Regions from separate parts of the Homo sapiens genome. Here region 2 is linked to region 1. Evidence: fine-mapped expression QTL. A gene starts in region 1. The other region holds a variant in brackets. All regions are shown on one strand. Distances are from middle to middle.

Region 1 (8,771 bases):
AGGCCAGGGCAAAACGTGCATCAGCAATAAAATAGATTTGGTGGGTGGACACATTAGGAGTACTCATATAAGAACTTTCCTATTTGGAGATGCCCAGATCATGCTCTACCCTTGGGTTTAGAAATTCTGAGCAGCCAAATGTGAATGGTTTGCTCTGGATAAGTCCTTTTCATTATAGCCAATTGGAACCATTTGAATTCACACTCCTAATTACCTGCTTCTGGTTGCTGTGTCTAAACCATGTCTGGACCAACATAGCTTCTGGTACTCTACACTCCACCATGGGTCTTGGTCCAGCATCACTGGCAGGGACATACCAGCCCTGTTCATAGGACTGGAATAAAATCCAGAAGTAAGTTGTCTCAGGACCTCTGTTTAATAACAGGTTAGAAACAACTCCTGTAGGTATGGTTGTGGGATCCTGGCCTGGGACCAGGAGCATATAAATCTGCAACAATTACCACTGGGTAGGCCTTAGCAAGGATTACTATGAGGTTCAGCAACAAAGCTGCAAGAACTAGTGGTGGGGACTTTGTTCCTAAAGTGCAGTGTCCCTGGTGCCAAGTGCTTGTGGGCAACCTAGAGCCGCATCTGATGTAGGAAGACTTCATTGTCCTGAAATGGAATGTCTAGAAACTGTTAAGGAGCTGGAGGTCTATAAGCTGTTGTTTGGTTTAAGAGTTTTCTTACACAGTATCTTCTCTTTGTGGGACAACGTCTAGCTTTCAAGGTGTCTCAAAACTAACAGGTGTTGACCCGGCGTGGTGGCTCACGCCTGTAATCCCAGCACTTTGGGACGCCGAGGTGGGTGGATCACCTGAGGTCAGAAGTTCAAGACCAGCCTGGCCAACATGGTGAAACCCCGCCTCTACTAAAAATACAAAAAATAGCCGGGTGTAGCAGCATGCACCTGTAATCCCAGCTACTCAGGAGGCTGAGTCAGGAGAAACACTTGAACCTGGGAGGCGGAGGTTGTAGTGAGCTGAGATCGTGCCACTGCACTCCAGCCTGGGCAGCAGAGCAAGACTCCATCTCAAAAAACAAAACAAAACAAAAACAGGTGTTAATGAGGAACTTGTAATTTTTGGAGGTGAGTAGAGAAAGTGAAAGAACAGCACTAAAAGTAACTGTGATGAATGAGTGTTGTGCCTCTACTATCAAGCAATATTGTTTAAGAGGAGCTGTTATATCTAAAAATCCTTGAGTAAAACAAAGACTGGCCAATTCTGTGAAATGCTATTACCAAACCCCTGCCCCCTGAATGTTTCCAGTCTATGTGGTATTACTTGGAACCCACTTGGGAAAAGTTCCATTCCATAAATCCTGGCAGAGGCAGGAAGAGAAGAGACAGAGTTTGAACTTGCAGAAACTGCTTGTCGGGGTCCAAATGGAAAATCAGATATCAAATTGGTTGTTACAAACCTATTCACAGACTCAGGGGAAGCAATTTAACAACAAGTGGCATAGAGTTGGAGGCTTAGGAGAGAAAGCAAATTATCCCAAATTGTTCATCTGCTGCAACACCATTATCTTCCTCTTTAAACTTTGTTATTTTAGCCAATAGTGTCATCATTTTCTAATTCCTTTTTTTTTTTTTTGGGACAGAGTCTAGCTCTGTCGCCAGGTTGGAGTACAGTGGCGCAATCTCCACTCACTGCAACCTCTGCCTTCCGGGTTCAACAGATTCTCCTGCCTCAGCCTCCTGAGTAGTTGGGACTACAGGTGTGCACCACCACGCCCAGCTAATTTTTGTATTTTTAGTAGAGACGGGGTTTCACCATGTTGGCCAGGATGGTCTCGATCTCTTGACCTTGTGATCCACCCACCTCAGTCTCCCAAAGTGCTGGGATTACAGGCGTGATTCACCACACCTGGCCAGTGTCATTTTCTACTGATGCAGGTTGGAAGCCTCATGCTGTTCCACCTGCCCCGGAAGCTTTCCCTAATTTCACAGCCCTGTCTCACCCATCCTCATGGATCCAGTTCAAGAACCATCTCATCCATGAAGCCCATCAGCCCTTGGAGATCTTGTTCATAACCTCCACATTGTCAATGCCCAGCAGTGTCCTAAAAACAGCAAGTTCTCAAAACTATAGGCATTAGTTACTAAAAACAGGCTGCTGTGTGGGAATCCGCACATAGGCAGCAGGCTCCCTTAATTCAGGGACTAGAGAGCCACCTGGTCTTCCTCCCCACACAACACAGCCTTGCCTGGGTCCCCGGGTTTATATTTTCTAGCACCAGATCCTCCTCTTCCAACAGGGGTGATACCCAAATGAGTGGAGGTCCAAAGCATAGGACTAGAATGAAACAAACCCAGCTCTTCTGTGAGGTGTAGGCCTGTGAGAAGATCAGTATTGGTGGCCAACCCCTGATTCCTAAGGGTGCCTACTGAGTCATCTGGGCCAGATCAGCCCCTAGGCCCAGCACTGTTCAGTAATACCAGCATGCTACTACCTTCTGTACCATACCTCAGGCCCTGACTGCAAAGCAGGCTGAAACTGTAAGCCTTCTTTTGGGGTCCTCCCAGAAAAGCATGCTTCCCTGGGCACAGAGATACAGATTCCAGGAGATCCTGTTCCTCTCTTCTCACTGGCATGATCCTCTGAGGCAGAAGGTTGAGAACAAAGGAACAGGACAGCCACAACAAGCTAAGGTCTGGGCAGAGAAGAAATCCAAACTTGTTGAGCAAAAGAAATCAAGAACAAGCAAATACCAGAAGGGAACAGCCAAAAGTTTTTCAAAGTTATGGAGAACAGCAAGGAAAATGGTCCAAGAGTCCAGCAAAGAGTAATGAGGAGGGCCATGGCACATAGGGAGGAGTGGTGAAGACTGAAAAATACGTGAGCAGCCAAAGAAGGTGCCTAACAGTGAGGCAGCATCCTAGTTCTGGTTCAGCTAACTCACATTCCTCTCACCATGGGGTGAACCAATTCTCAGCTACCCTGGGGGGAAGGCTTGTTGAAGATGACGCCTGCAGAAGCTGACTGGCAGAGTAGTGGACTCTGGGATGGGATACCGGCAGGGGCATTTCCCCACCAGCTTCACCCTGGAGATAACTCCATGTTTCAGAACCTGTTACCTTTTTCCTCAAACATGAGCTATTTTTCCTAGTTTCCTTTGAAAGATCGGACCGAAAGTCAAGTTTTCGTGGTTTAGGCTCACCCTTCAAAACACCCGAAATAACTTTTGCAGAAATCTTCCTCATGTTCAAGTTTTCTTTCAAAATGAGCCTAACAGTTTCTTTGTCTAAATTTAACTCTTCAGCCATCATCCTCACGGTTAACTGCCTGTTTGAACAAACCAAGTCCTTGACCTTCTGGATATTGTCATCTGTTCGGTGGGTGACTGGACGCCCACTTCGGGCATCATCTCGAACATCTTCCCGTCCTTCTTTAAACCTTTTGTGCCAGTCAAAAACTCTGGCCCTTGACATGACTTCATCCCCATAAGCTTCTTTTAAAAGATGGTGGGTCTCACTTGCAGACTTGTTCAATTTCACGCAAAATTTGATACTAATCCTTTGTTCTAAATAGCGGTCACTCATTCTGGCACTGAACAACACAGGAACGTTTAACAGGCCACGACTGTAAGGGAAAGACGGACAGATCAATCTTTATAGGGCTGCAGGTGTAATCATATCGCTCTTCTTGCTCTTCTAGAAGCCTCGCCGGGAAAGAGTAATTGCTTTTATGAATTTTTGTCCCTCAGCTTCCAGTCGAGGCTGGGGAGATCCGTTCTGGGAAGCCAACAGTCGCTGCAAAGCTGGGAAAAATTAAATCGCCTACAACCACGTCTGCATCAAACCAGTGCACGCACATCTGCCGAGAGTTTGCCAGTCACCAAGGTCGCTCCGATTCCGCGGCCCTTAAGGAGTATATGGCGAATTCTGCAAGAAAGGCCTAAGTGGTGGCAAATTAAGCAAGCAAGAAGAGATGCATCGGTGATGTAACGTGCAAGCTCGCCCTAGATCTGCAGAAACCCGCGCACGCCAAACCTACCGGAGCAGCCCAGGAACCGCCTGCTCTAGCGTCCCGGGAGACAGGCGCGCATGCGCAATTCTCTCTCCCCGCGGATTAGACTGTGCGCAGTCGCACTGCGGCGGCGCGCGCCAGGTCCCGCCTCCGCCTCGCCACACCCCGGCAGGCGCGCTTCCTTGCGCGTGCCCGCCTGCTGAGAAGGCGGAAAGGAGGGGCGGGGGAGGAAGGCTGAGGGAAGAGAGGGCACCCCCGGGCGTCAGGGTGCATTGTGGGAAGGAGGCGGCAGCGTCTCGGGCGGGCGGGAGGTGCACCAGCGGCGGCGGCGGCGGTAAATCCTCCCGGCCGCTCACAGCACTGTGGAGCCGCGTCCCCAGCCCGGCCTCGGACCGCGGCACCCCTCCTGGCCCTCGCGGCTTCTAGCCCGCCCGCCCCTCCCCCGCGCGTCGGCCCTGCCGAGCCGGCCGGCCGGCCTGGCTCCCCTCCCCGGCCCCGACGGGCGGGCGGACTGCCCTGAGGAGGCGGGGAGGGGAGGGCTGGGCCGGCCGGCGGGCGGGCGACGATGCCGAACTTCTGCGCTGCCCCCAACTGCACGCGGAAGAGCACGCAGTCCGACTTGGCCTTCTTCAGGTTCCCGCGGGACCCTGCCAGGTAAGCGGCGGGCGCAGAGCGGGCGGCCCGGGCCCACCTTCGCGGTGAGCGCTGCCAGCCGCCGGCCCCTGGCGGGCTCCCGGGCTGGCTGAGAGGGGCGCAGGAGGCGGGCGCAGCGCACTGCCGTCGACCCCAGCGTTGGACCGAGATGGGGAGCCGGCCCCGAGCCGTGGGCGGGCGGGCGTCCGGGGACCTCGGAGCACGTGCGCTGGTGGGGGCTCTGCGCGGAGGACACCACCCCAAACGCGAGGGAGCTGGGGCGGCGCGCGGACGCGGGATGCTGTGGGTTCTCGCCGTGGCTCACTTGCTGTGTGACCTCGGGGGAGTCGCTTTCCTCTCTGGGCGTTAGTTTCCTTAGCTGTCAAAAGAGAGCAGGACTCTATGGTTGTGGCCACTGGGGCCTTTCCCTCTCCTTGCCACCACCCCCGGGACAGTGTTTCTGTTTTGAGTCCCGCTACCTTCTTTCATCTCATCGCAACTGCTTTCTCCTTCGGACTTGTCATTGCACGGTTCAGGATTCATTTTCTGGCTGTCACCGTTACTCATTTTCTCGCTTGGGTATTGTAGGGATAACAGAGGGTGTACGCGTGAGGGCGTGGAAATTGGTATTGGAACCTCTTCCTTCGGATAACCCCCACACACTGACATATTTAGGGAATGATAGCATAGGGACTGTGTTTGAAAGGCTGAGATGTTTCATAGGCCTGTCTTGTTGGTTCATTCATTTAAAATCAATGCCTACTATGTGCCGAGCGCAAATGTTAGGTGCTGGGAGTTCATGGGTGAATAAGGGTGTCACTGCTTGCAGAAAGCTCTCAGTCCAGTAAGGGAACAGGTGCAGCAACGGGCGACTATAATTTATGTTATTTATTAATTAGTTCAATTAATTATTGAAGGTCTACTTGTGTTGGCATTGTTGTGAGCAGTGGGGGTTACAGATGAACAAATCGAAGTCCTTGCTTTCATGAAGATTACATTCTAATGGGGGGGGAATAAACAAGTAAAATACGTAGTGTGTCGGATGATGATAAATACTGTGGAGAAAAATAAACAAAGGTTAGAGGGTAGGGGAATAAGTAGTATCAAGGGACGCACAATTGCTATTTTAAATACAGTGATTAGAGAAGGCCTCACTAAGAAGGTGAATTTGAGCAAAGACCAGGTGAAGGGGCCAGCCATGGAGATACCTTGGGCAGCAGCATTCCAAAGAAGGCAAAGACAGGGCAACCAGGAGTCCAGGGAGAGGGACTGGGAGAGAGGTGAGATGAGACCAGAAAGGTGTGTGTATGGTAGGGGCAAATTCTTTAGGTAGGACCTTGTAGGTCTTGGAAGGCACTATGGTTTTTATTATGAGTGAAATAGGAAGTCATTGAAGGGTTTAGAGCAGAGACTTAAATTTTAACAGGATCAGTGGCTGCTCATTAGATTGTGGGGAGGCAAAGGTGAAAGCCGGAAGACCAGTTAAAAGGCTGTTGTAATAATCCAGATTAATAGAGGAGGAGATGGTAAATTTGAGATATGGTTTGAAGGTGAAGCCAACATCATTTGCTAATGGTTTGGAGGTAGATTGTAAAAGAAAAAGAGAACTTAAGGACGACTTCAAGATTTTAAAAATCTATGTTGGCCAGGTTGGTCTTGAACTCCTGGCTTCAAGCAGTCCTCCTGTGTCGGTCTCCCAAAGTGCTAGAACAGGCTCTGAGCCACCGCGCCCAGCCGACTTCAAGATTTTTAACGTGAGCATTTGCTGAGATAGGGAAGACTGGGAAGAGCAGGTTTGGTAGAGGAATACTAGAAGTTTGGGTTTGAGAGACCTGATAGACATTCAAGAATAGATGTCTAGGCCGGGCATGGTGGCTCACACCTGTAATCCCAGCACTTTGGGAGGCCTAAGCAGGCGGATCACTTGAGGTCAGGAGTTCGAGACCAGCCTGGCCAACATAGGGAAACCCTGTCTCTATTAAAAAATACAAAAATTAGCTGAGCCCAGTGGTGCGTGCCTGTCCAGCTACTCAGGAGGCCAAGACGTGAGAATCGCTTGAACCCAGGAGGCAGAGGTTGCAGTGAGCCGAGATCGTGCCACTGCACTCCAGTCAGGGTGACAGAACAAGACTCCGTCTCAAGAAAGAAAGAATAGATGAAAAAAAAAAAAGAATAGATGTCTTTCTTCATACCATATACAGAAATGAACTCCAAATGGCCTATACTTTTATTGAGATCAAAGGCCTAAATATAAGAGCTATGTCATTAAACTTTTAGGAAAAAAATACAGATAAATCTTCATGACTTTAGATTTGGCAGCACATTCTTGTTTGTTTTTTGTTTTTTTTGAGAGTCTCACTCTGTTGCCCAGGCTGCAGTGCAGTGGCACAGTCTCAGCTCACTGCAACCTCTGCCACCGATGTTCACAAACTATTCTACTCACTCAGCCTCCCAGGTAGCTGGGATTGCAGGCATCCGCCACCATGCCTGGCTAATTTTTGTATTTTTTTTTAGTCAAGACGGGGTTTCGCCATGTTGGCCAGGCTGGTCTCGAACTCCTGATCTCAGGTGATCTGCCCGCCTTGGCCTCCCAAAGTGCTGGGATTACAGGTGTAAGCCACCGTGCTTGGCTGGCACCACATTCTTAGATATGACACCAAAATACATGCAGTAAAAAGAAAAATAGACTAATTGGACTTCATCAAAATTAAACTTTTGTGTATCAAAGAACATTACCAAGAAAGTGAAAAGAATGGAAGAAGGTACTTGCAAATAATACATTTGATCTGGGTCCAGTATCCAGAATATATAAAGAACTCTTACAATTCAGCAACAAAAAGACAACCCAATTTTAAAATAGGCAAAGGACTTCTTTCTTTAAACAGAAGATATAAATGGCTAAAAAGCACATGAAAAGATGCTGAGCATCACTCGTTATTAGAGAAGTTCAAATCAAAACCACAAGTGGCAGTTAGATGTAGAATTACTGTGTGTCCCAGCAATTCCATTCCTAGGCGTATATCCAAAGAATTGCAAACTGATATTCAAAAAAACCAAATGTACACACATTCATAGCAGCACTATTCGCAATAGTCAAAAGGTAGAAACAAGCCACGTTTATCAGTGCTTGAATGGATAAACAAAATGTATATCAATACAATGAAATATTAGCCATGAAAAGGAATGAAGTGCCAGTACATACTACAGTATGGGTGAACCTCAGAAACATTATGCTAAGTGAAAGAAGTCAGATACAAAAGCTTATATGTTGTATGATTCTATTATATTAAATATCCAGAATAAGTAAATCCATAGAGATAGAAAGCATATCAGTGGTTGCCTGGGGCTGGGCGAAAGGGAGAGTGGGGAGCAACTGATTAATGGTTACAAGGTTTCCTTTTGAGGTGATGAAAATGTTTTAGAATTAGGTAGTGGTGATGGTTGCAGAACATGATGAATGTGTTAATTGCCATTAGTTTTTTACTTTAAAATGGTTAGTTTTATGTTATGAGAATTTCACCTCAAAGAAAATAGATGTCTTGAAGAGAGAATAGGATATACAAGTCTGAAATTCAGAGACTTTCAAACCGGAAATTGTAAATATGGGTGTTCTCAGTTTATAGAGGGTATTTAAAACCGTGGTACGGGTTAAGGTTATCTAAGGAGTGAGCAAAGAACAGATCTGAGGATTGAGTCCTGGGGCATTCCCAGTGTTTTAAGTTCCGAGACATGGGAAAGAACTCGCTCAGTACAGTGAGGAGTAGCAGTTGGGAACAGAGGAGAGGAGCATCTTAGTCTGACTTGGCCTTGCCCCATTATGCGTTATCTTCCTTTTACCCAAATTTTAGCCCAAAGACATTCTTACAGGTTTATTTCACTTCCATAATGAGGGCACCCCTAGTCAGTTCTGGACCACAGGTCATTTGTATTAATATGTAGTGAATCCTGTTTTGACTACACTCCTTAAGGGGAGTATAGTCTATAGGGGTTTACAGTTTCAGATTTGAAAGAAGTGTTTAGATCTAGTGAAATCTCACTTGAAATACTGGAATTTTCTCAATAATAGTGACTTTTATCATTTTTAGGGTTATTATCCCTTTTGAGAATCTAGCATAAGGACTCTTACCTGAAAAAAAAAAAAAAACAAAAAAAACATAGACACAA
Region 2 (8,771 bases), 55 kb after region 1:
GCTTGGAGGGAAGGATCTGATTTAAAAAGGTGGTGGCCCTGGGGTTCAGGGCCAGGCCTGCTGGCTGCCATCCTACACAGCAGCCCCACTCCAAACTCTCCATCCTGGGGCCCCCTCATTCCTCTTTACTTTGGTGTTCCCAGTTAGACCCAAGTAGGACTCCACAGCTTTGGGCAGAGGACTTACAAAGCAGCAGGGGCCAGTGCTCACACTTGGGACTCTAGATCACTGGGGGACCTGCAGGACCAGCCTGCTGGGGACTTCATGGAGAAGGAGGTGCGTGGAGGTGGCCCTTCACTGAGCACCTGCTGTATGCTGGGCATTGGGCAGGGCACTTCGTTTATGGGGTTCCCTTTTCATCCTTTAAGCAACAGTAGGTATTATTGTCTCCATTTTACAGACAAGAAAAGAGAGTCCTAGAAAGGCTAAGGGGACTCGCCCAGGTTTACACAGTGAGTCAGTGGTAGGGCTAGAATTCTAACTCAGGTTGGCCCCACCTGTGAATCTAATCTGTGCTTAACCCCTACACTGCTTTGTGCAGGACATAACCCTGTCTTGCACATGTCTGGCACAGAGTGAAGGTCCCATCATGTTGACTTTATCATGCACTTTCTCAGCTGGAGCTGTGGGCCTCACAGCAGCCCTTCGGGGTCAGTAATGCTTCTCTCGCTTTCATGATGTGGAGGCTCAAGCTTGCAGAAGTTGAGCAACTTGCCCAGGGTCACACAGCTAGTCGCAGAGGGTCAGGGAAGTCGGGGAAGTTCAAAGAAATGTGGAGTAGAGTGGGTTTGCCCAAGGAATGACAGGAATGTTCAAGGAACTGAAAGCTGGAAGTGTCTGCGGAAGCTGCAGATCTGCCGGCAAGCAGTGGGGCTGCTTATGGAGTAGTGAGCCCAGGCCCTGGAGCGGGGTCCTGGGGGACTCTCACTCAGCAGAAGAGCAGCCATCAGACACCTGGGCTTGGGACGCCTGCCTGGTCCCTTGTGTTACTTGGAAATGTCAGCAAGAAGGGCCCTTCACCGGGCATGTTTCTCTTCTGTCAGATGAGGGCTGTTAAATGAGGTCTTTGATTTTACTGTTCAGCAGTGGCATCTTTCTTTAAAATAGTCTTGGCCAGGCATGGTGGCTCACACCTGTAATCCCAGCACTTTGGGAGGCTGAGGCAGGTGGATCACCTGAGGTCAGGAGTTCGAGACCAGCCTGGCCAACATGGTGAAACCCCCGTCTCTACCAAAAATACAAAAATTAGCAGGGCATGGTGGCGTGTGCCTATAGTCCCAGCTACTCTGGAGGTTGAGGCAGGAGAATCGCTTAAACCCAGGAGGTGGAGGTTGCAGCGAGCCGAGATCGCGCCACTGCACTCCAGTCTGGGTGACAGAGTGAGACTCTGTCTCAAAAAAAAAAAAAAGTCTTAAGCTGAACTTTATTCATTCGCCCATTCAACAAATATTGAGACTTTCAAGGCACCTGAAACATATGGTTGACCAGACTTCTTCCTGCTTTGAGTGTCTCTGACTTGTGTTACAGAAATTAAGGGTCCCTACCCCTCCACTCAGGGTAGGAATGGGGCCACCTGGGCTGCTATGGGCCCATGCCCTCATTTGGGAGCTCCTTAACCATGGTGCTCCTCTGAAAGGTTCCCTGTCAGAGCTGAGTATATTCATATACTCACAATTGGCCATTTCACAGATTGGGTGGGAAGGCCCAAAGAGTGGGCCAAACCCTGGGTCCCCTGAAGCAGCCTCTTTGTGGCATCATTCATCAAAGAGGCTTTGTGCAATCGGAGGAAACTGGGCGTGTCCATGAGGAGAGAGAAGCAGCGAGGAGGCAAGAGTGAGCAAAGCCCACCAGGCGGGAAAGAGGCCCATTTTGCAGAAGCCAACCCCCTCCCTCCGCCTGGCAGAGCCTTCCTAACAACCTTCCCTCCTCCACCCACACCCGCCAGCCTCTGCCCAGAGCCAGGGTGTCAGCTTGGGTTTGGTGACAGCAGCCCTGAAGGAGGTGTTGGATGGTTGAAGCCCTCCATTGTAGCAGCTCTGGCATCTTCTATGAGCCCAGCCTCGCCAAGTTGTCCTCTTGCCAACTGGAGAGAGGCTGGCTCCTGAGGGATCCTCTCCAACTAGGTAACTCGATTCCCTGCAGCCCAGCACCAGCCCAGCTCTGGCCACCAGAGCCGGAGCTCTGAAGAGTTTACCTCCAACATGGCAGTGAGCAGTTTTCAAGGTCAAGGAGGGTGGCCACCAGGAGCTCCTGAGCCAGGGTGCATGGGGAGAACACAGGGCTGGCAGGCCAGGTTCTAGCTCCAGCTCTTCACTAACTTGCTGTGTGTCTTTGAATGTATCACCTCCTCACTCCGGACCTCAGTTCTCATAAAAGGGAGACTGACAGAAGGTCCCTAAGTGCTTACAGATGGACTGGCCAGGGTCGTCTTGGTCTATAGCATCCCTTTCAAATAAAGATCTGACTATTCTGTGCCTGGTGATCAGGGTGCCCAATGGCTGTGAGTCCCCCTCACCTGGCCTCTGGCCTTTCCAGTGGTAGGGAGAGCAGGGGCTGGCAGCTGCTGTCTTTGTTCTCAGCCTCTCTCAGAAGTCAGAGAACATTAGAAATTCAGTGGAACTACACTGGGTGTGGCTTCCACTTCCCTTAAGATAACCGAGTGAAACTGGATTTTTCTCAACAACTATGATAAAGCTTAAGAACAAGCTAGATATAGGATTCCACTTCACATCTGAATCCCTCAATTGACAAAAACCAATGTGTGAGTGATATTGTGAAATGACACTTTTGGCTTTCTCCCCTAGAATGTTACTATCACACATGTAAAGCATACTATTGTAATTTCACCTACCATTCACTGTTCACTGCCTTTTCATAAGGACAAACTGGACTCTATTGAGATTACGCTTTTCCCATTTTGGGCATCAAAAATTTATTTTAGATGAAGTAGTGGTGCAATAGTACACGACAGTTTTTCTTTTTTTCTTTTTTTAAAATTTTTTGAGATGGAGGATGGAGTCTTGCTCTGTCTCCCAGGCTGGAGTGCAGTGGTGCGATCTCGGCTCACTGCAACTTCTGCCTCCTGGGCTCAAGCAATTCTCTGGCCTCAGCCTCCTGAGTAGCTGGGATTACAGGCACCTACCATCATGCCTGGCTAATTTTTGTAGTTTTAGTAAAGATGGCCAGGCTGGTCTCAAACTCCTGACCTTGAACTTCTGGCTGATCTGCCCACCTTGGCCTCCCAAAGTGCTGGGATTACAGGGGTAAGCCACCACGCCCAGCCTAGTACATGATATTTTTCGAGTAAACTTTTCACAAAGTCTAATATGTATTCAGAATAATCAGACTCCTAAATGTACAGCTTGATGCCTTACCACTAAGTGAACACACCATGGAACCACAGAACATCATGATAGTTCTTTTTCTAATGTTTTTTGTTTGTTTGTTTTGTTTTGTTTGTTTGTTTTGGTTTTTTTAGCAAACTAAAAAAGCTGGTAACTTTACGCTGGTCACCTCCTCTTCATTTAAATTTTACCAGTTGGTAAAATCTAGAATTTGGAGATGTTCTGGGCTAGCCGATCTAATAATGTTCCACGCAGTGCTGCTGGAGCCCTTGGAGCCATTATCTTCTGTGACACACCAACCAGAGGGAAGCAGACGTGGGCCAGGGGCCCACTTCACCCCATCTCAAGAGATAGGAAGAATCCGGCCAAAACATCCCCTCCAGATTCAGCAGAGTTGGCTGCTTGATGCCAGAGCCAAGGGGCAGTGAGGAGGAGTGGCTTTGGATGGGAGATGCTGGAGGATGAATCATTCCTCCCATTCAGGCCTCTCTCGCAGCCTCTTTTCATCAGCCATTACTTTTCCCTTCCACCCACCCACCCCAGGGGCAGGTCTTCCGGACACCTAGGAATCCTCAGGTGCATGTTGTGCATCACCATTGCCATCCCCTCTCCCCCACTCAATTCTCAAGTCACAGCTCTGAGACCCAGGAAGCATCCTCTGACCGTTTTTTTCCCTATTGATAATGGAGAAACCCTGGCACCTTTGTGAAAGGCTATGAAAGTTGTTCAAAATCACACAACAGGCTGGGAATCCAGGAGGCCACATCCGCTCAACCAAGGCAATGCACATTTGTCAAGGACTTGCTTTGTACCCAAACACAGACCAAGGTGATTCTAAGGAAGAAGACCCTTTCTGTTCAGTAAGTCTTAAGTACTATTATGCTCAATAAATATGTGCCTGGCCCTCACTAGGTGTTGACCATTCATGCATTCAGCAAATATTTTATTGAGCAGTCTCTCTGTGTCACTGCTTTTGACTCTAAATTATTTGCTTATACTACTACTTCTTGATTTTTCAGTTTCTTTCTCTTTCTCTCTCTCTTTCCCCTTACTTTCTCCACACTCACATGTACATTTTGTGTCTCCCTACTTCCACCTAGTATCACAAGTTTGATTGGAACAGTATTCATGTTTTCATTATTAGGCTACGTAAATGCTATTGACAACTGGGCCGTGTAGTATTCTATAATTATTTTTCCTTCCCTGCATAACAATTGTGGTTATGCATATCTCCTTTCAATATGTTTAAATGCATTGGCTAGTCTACTGATTTCATCTTCCTGAAGAAGTCCCTCCCAGAGTCTTCCACCATGTCCCATTAGGATGAATTGTCTTCTATTGCACAATAGAATAGAATGGCCTGGGGATTCCTTTGCCCCTATCCTTTGTTACATTTTCTTTTCCTTGGATGCCATGTTTTCCTCTTTCTTGGTTAACTCCCTCACTTCTGTTGAAGCACATCCTCCAGAAGCTTCCTCAGGAAACATGCAAAGATAATTCACATGACTAGAAATGTATTCTCTCTTCACCCTTGATCATCAGTTGGCTGGGTGGAAATATAACTTTCTGGGATGGAAATATAACTTTCTTCAGAATTTTGGAGACATTTCCCCATTTTGCAGCAATATCTTATTTCTTAGGATGTTAATTATAGTTTTAAGTTTTCAGCTTTTTGCA[A/T]AGTTGCCAGCTTCTAAGTTCCTTTGTTGTTTCCCCCTATTCTTTTGACTTCTTTTTTAATTAGAGGCTTTTCTCAAATGCTTACTCATCCTTTGCTGTCTGCTCATATTTAAGAATGAGACACTAAAACAGATTTGATACCCTCTGAACATGATTGGGGCTGTGCACATGATTGGGCCATTCCATGTCTTTTATTTTGTGCTAGTCAAAAGAAAAGCTCCTCCAATCTCCTGCCTGAAGCATTCTGTGTATCCTGTCTGGAGTATTAGTATTTTGCCAGGAGAGAGAGTATCTGGAAGTCTGATTGTTTTCCAAGCAATCTTTCTGTTTTTAGCCTCCACCCCGCCCACCTCCGACCCACCCACTTTCCAGAGGTACCTGGTACAACCAACTCCTGAACCATTTGGGGGTTTAACAGTGTAAATTGGGCTGATTTTCAACTTTCTTTATTGCCTTTTAGGATTTAATCAATTACCATTCTTTGTTGGCTGTGTCTGGTTTCCAATATTATGATAAATCCCTTTAGTGTTGTTTTAGTTGGTTTCAGGGAAGACCATAGTGCGAGTTCCGCTTGCTATCTTTATTCTAGTTCAATTTTTAAATGGGCAGTAACAACACATTTCAGAGCAGGAAGTCTCTGTTTAAAGTTATAAACATTAACAGAGACTGTAACCAGAATATGGAAAAGGGCCTAGAGGGGCCCTTCCCCACCAGTTCTTTACCTATTAAGACTCCTGGCTCTAAAAGCCCAGGTCAAAAGCCACTCCTTGCGATGCCTTCCTCAGACTGCCCAGCTTGTATTTGTTTTATTCAAGTTAGGCCAACTGAGTGATAGACATTACAGTACTTTATAGACATTATTCCATTTAAACCTTTACACTCTAAAGTGATAGACTTTTGGAGAGGTGGATGCACTGATCAAGATCCCACAGCCTTCCTGACCACTTCACAGGTGGAAAACTGAGGTGGTCCCATGGCCAGAGCTAAGAAAGGCGGTGCTGATTCCTGGGCCCCCGCTGCTCACGGCGCCCTTTGGCATCACAGTAGGCCAAGGGCAGCTCACTCTTTGGTGGCCCCAAGAATAACGGGGGCAGTTTACTGAGAGATCTCAGTAAACTGACAGTTTACATTTACTGAGATTGTAACAGTCCAAGGGGTTCACCTTGCCCACTGCCTGGACAGAGCCGATTCTTCAAGACAGGGGAATTGCAATAGAGAAAGAGTAATTCATGCAGAGCTGGCTGTGCGGGAGACCAGAGTTTTATTATTACTCAAATCAGTCTCCCCAGGCATTGGGGAGCAGAGTTTTGAAGGATAACTTGGTGGGTGGGGGGAAGACAGTGTGCCAGGAGTGCTGATTGGTCAGAGATGAAATCACAGGGAGTGGAAGCTGTCTTCTTGCGCTGAGTCAGTTCCTGGGTGGGGGCCACAAGATCAGATGAGCCAGTTTATTGATCTGGGTGGTGCCAGCTGATCCATCAAGTGCAGGGCCTGTGAAACATCTCAAGCACTGATCTTAGAGCAGGTTAGAGAGGGTCAGAATCTTGTATCCTCCAGCTGCATATAATTCCTTATCTTGTGGCTAATGTTAGACCTGCCAAAGCAATCTAGTCCCCAGGCAAGAAGGAGGTCTGCTTTGGGAAAGGTCTGTTACCATCTTTGTTTAAACAATAAACTATAAACTAAATTTCTCCCAAAGATAGTTCAATCTATGCTTAGGAATGAACAAGGACAGCTTGGAGGTTAGAAGCAAAATGGAGTCAGTTAAGTTAGATCTCTTTCACTGTCTCAGTCATAATTTTACAAAGGCGGTTTCAAGATCTCTCAGTAAATGACAGACCTGAGACTTAAACTCAGGTCTCTACCATGCAGCCCTTCTGACATAATTGCTGACTTTGAGGAGCCCCAAAGGTAGAGCTCATATTTTGGTGAAAAAATGGCACATGGTACTGCAGTCAGCCCTGGGCACGTACAAGGAGCACCAAATGGGGGTGAAGGAGTGGTGTTCAGTTCAGAGGAAAGAGGGCTTCCTCCCAAATGACCAGGGCTGCCTTTGCAGAGGTGGTAGCATCTGAGCTCATCACCCCACAGGTTCAGGATGGCTTCTTTCCTTGCCTAGGGGATGGGCGGTGACAGTGAATAATAATGATGGTGGTGGTGAAGTTAGTAAAGCACTTTTACTCACATCTCTTTGATTTTACAGAACCTTGTGGGCTGAATGTTATCTCCACTTTAGGCAAGATAAAATCAAGACACAGAGAAGTTAGTCACCCAGCAGGAAAGCCTGGGCTTCAGGGTCCAAGTCCCTCCCTTCCGAGTCCTCGCTCTCTGCTCTCTGCTGTAACTAGGCCGAGGGGGAAGCTTCCTATTCCAAAGCATCTCTTCACCAGTGCTTCACAACATGTGGACTATTTCCTTGTTTTAAAGAGCTGATTTCTGGGTCCCATCTCAGACCTACTGCGTCTCTGGGAGATGGGGCCTTGAAATCTGCATTTTAACAACTGTCCCCGTGATTCTTGTGGTCACCTAAGAGTGAGATGCCCTCGGCCTACTGGGATGCTGAAGGACGCTGTGAGCAGCGGGGGCCCAGGAATCAGCACTGCCTTTCTTAGCTCTGGCCATGGGACCACCTCAGTTTTCTGCCTGAGAAGTGGGCAGAGTCGAGACTCCGAGGGTGCCACGCCCCGGCTGCCACCCCGCCAGCACAGGCGAGCGCCACACCTGCGTCTCTCCCAGGCTCCCTCCCTTCTCCGTCCCGCCCGCCCGGGTGGAAGGAAACAGCTGGGGGCTCTTCTTTTCCAGGCTGCGGTCGCCTCCTCTTCGGTTGCGGACGGGCCGAGGTTGGGGGCTCGGGCCGCTTTCCGCACGCGCCGACCCCCGCCGGGGACCGCAGGGGACCCGAGTGCGCGGGGCTTCCCGCCCGCCGGGCAGCCTCCCCCACCCCGCCTGCCCCGCCGGCAGCCCACAAATATTCCCGAGGCCCGGAGGGGGCAGAAAACGCCTTTCCAGCGCGTCTTCTGGCCCCGGCCCACCTTTCTGCGCGCGGAACCCTTCGAGGAGAGGCCTGGACACCCGTCAGTACCGCGCCCCCAAACCCTCGCCCTGCGCAGCCCGAGGGCGCAAGCGTGGGCCTTGTGGGGCGGGCATGGGCAGGGCAGGCAGACACAGACCCAGGGTGGGAGCTGGGGGAGGGCACCCCACTCAATCCGGGGCTCAGGGAAGGCGTCCTGGAGGGATTTCAGCTAAGCTCTGAAAGATGAACGGATATGATGGACAGAGGGAACAGAATATGCAAAGACCAACAGGGGGGCAGTTGGAGAAATTCCAAATACTGTGTGTTGTTGAAACGCTGAATTCAAGGTGTAGTGGCTCAAGATGGGGCTGGAGAGAGTGGGGAGAGCCAGTCCCGAGCAGGTCCTTGGCAAACCATGCTGGAGGATGGGCGACTCTGAGGGATTGTAAGCAGGACCCTGACTGGCCAGTCATTTGCTTTCCGGGAAGGCCACTCTGGCTGGTGTCGGGGGGGGGCGGGGGGGGACTGGGGGAGTGGCAGGGGATGGGTGAGGAGGCTGTAGGCAGAAGTCACAGTGCCTGCACCCAGGTGACGGGAGTGGGAATGTCTCCCTCCTGCCAACCCTCCTCCTTCCTCGTTAGTCCAGCTTGGACCCTCTTCCAAGGCCTCTCTCAGTGCCCCACTCACCACCTCCAGGAAGTCTTCCCTGCTCCCTCAGGGTCTCAGAACGCCAAAGC

The links. PIP is the estimated chance that this variant, and not a neighbour inherited with it, causes the effect.
Region 2: its variant is fine-mapped to the expression of THAP12 in whole blood (INTERVAL, PIP 0.94).

Annotation. Positions count from the first base shown.
Region 1 is chr11:76,376,605-76,385,375 of GRCh38, reverse strand. It overlaps THAP12 (THAP domain containing 12), which reads left to right and starts at 4,244. Exons shown (of 5, transcript NM_004705.4): 1 at 4,244-4,628. The coding sequence starts at 4,540. GVQW3 (GVQW motif containing 3) reads right to left here and starts at 4,053. Exons shown (of 2, transcript NM_001347885.2): 1 at 3,083-4,053. The coding sequence starts at 3,547. RefSeq lists a silencer at 3,966-4,895 and an enhancer at 4,538-5,039.
Region 2 is chr11:76,321,260-76,330,030 of GRCh38, reverse strand. No RefSeq gene overlaps it. Among named protein-coding and RNA genes, the nearest start is that of THAP12, 55 kb to the left of the region's middle. The variant A/T (reference allele first, on the strand shown) is at 5,022.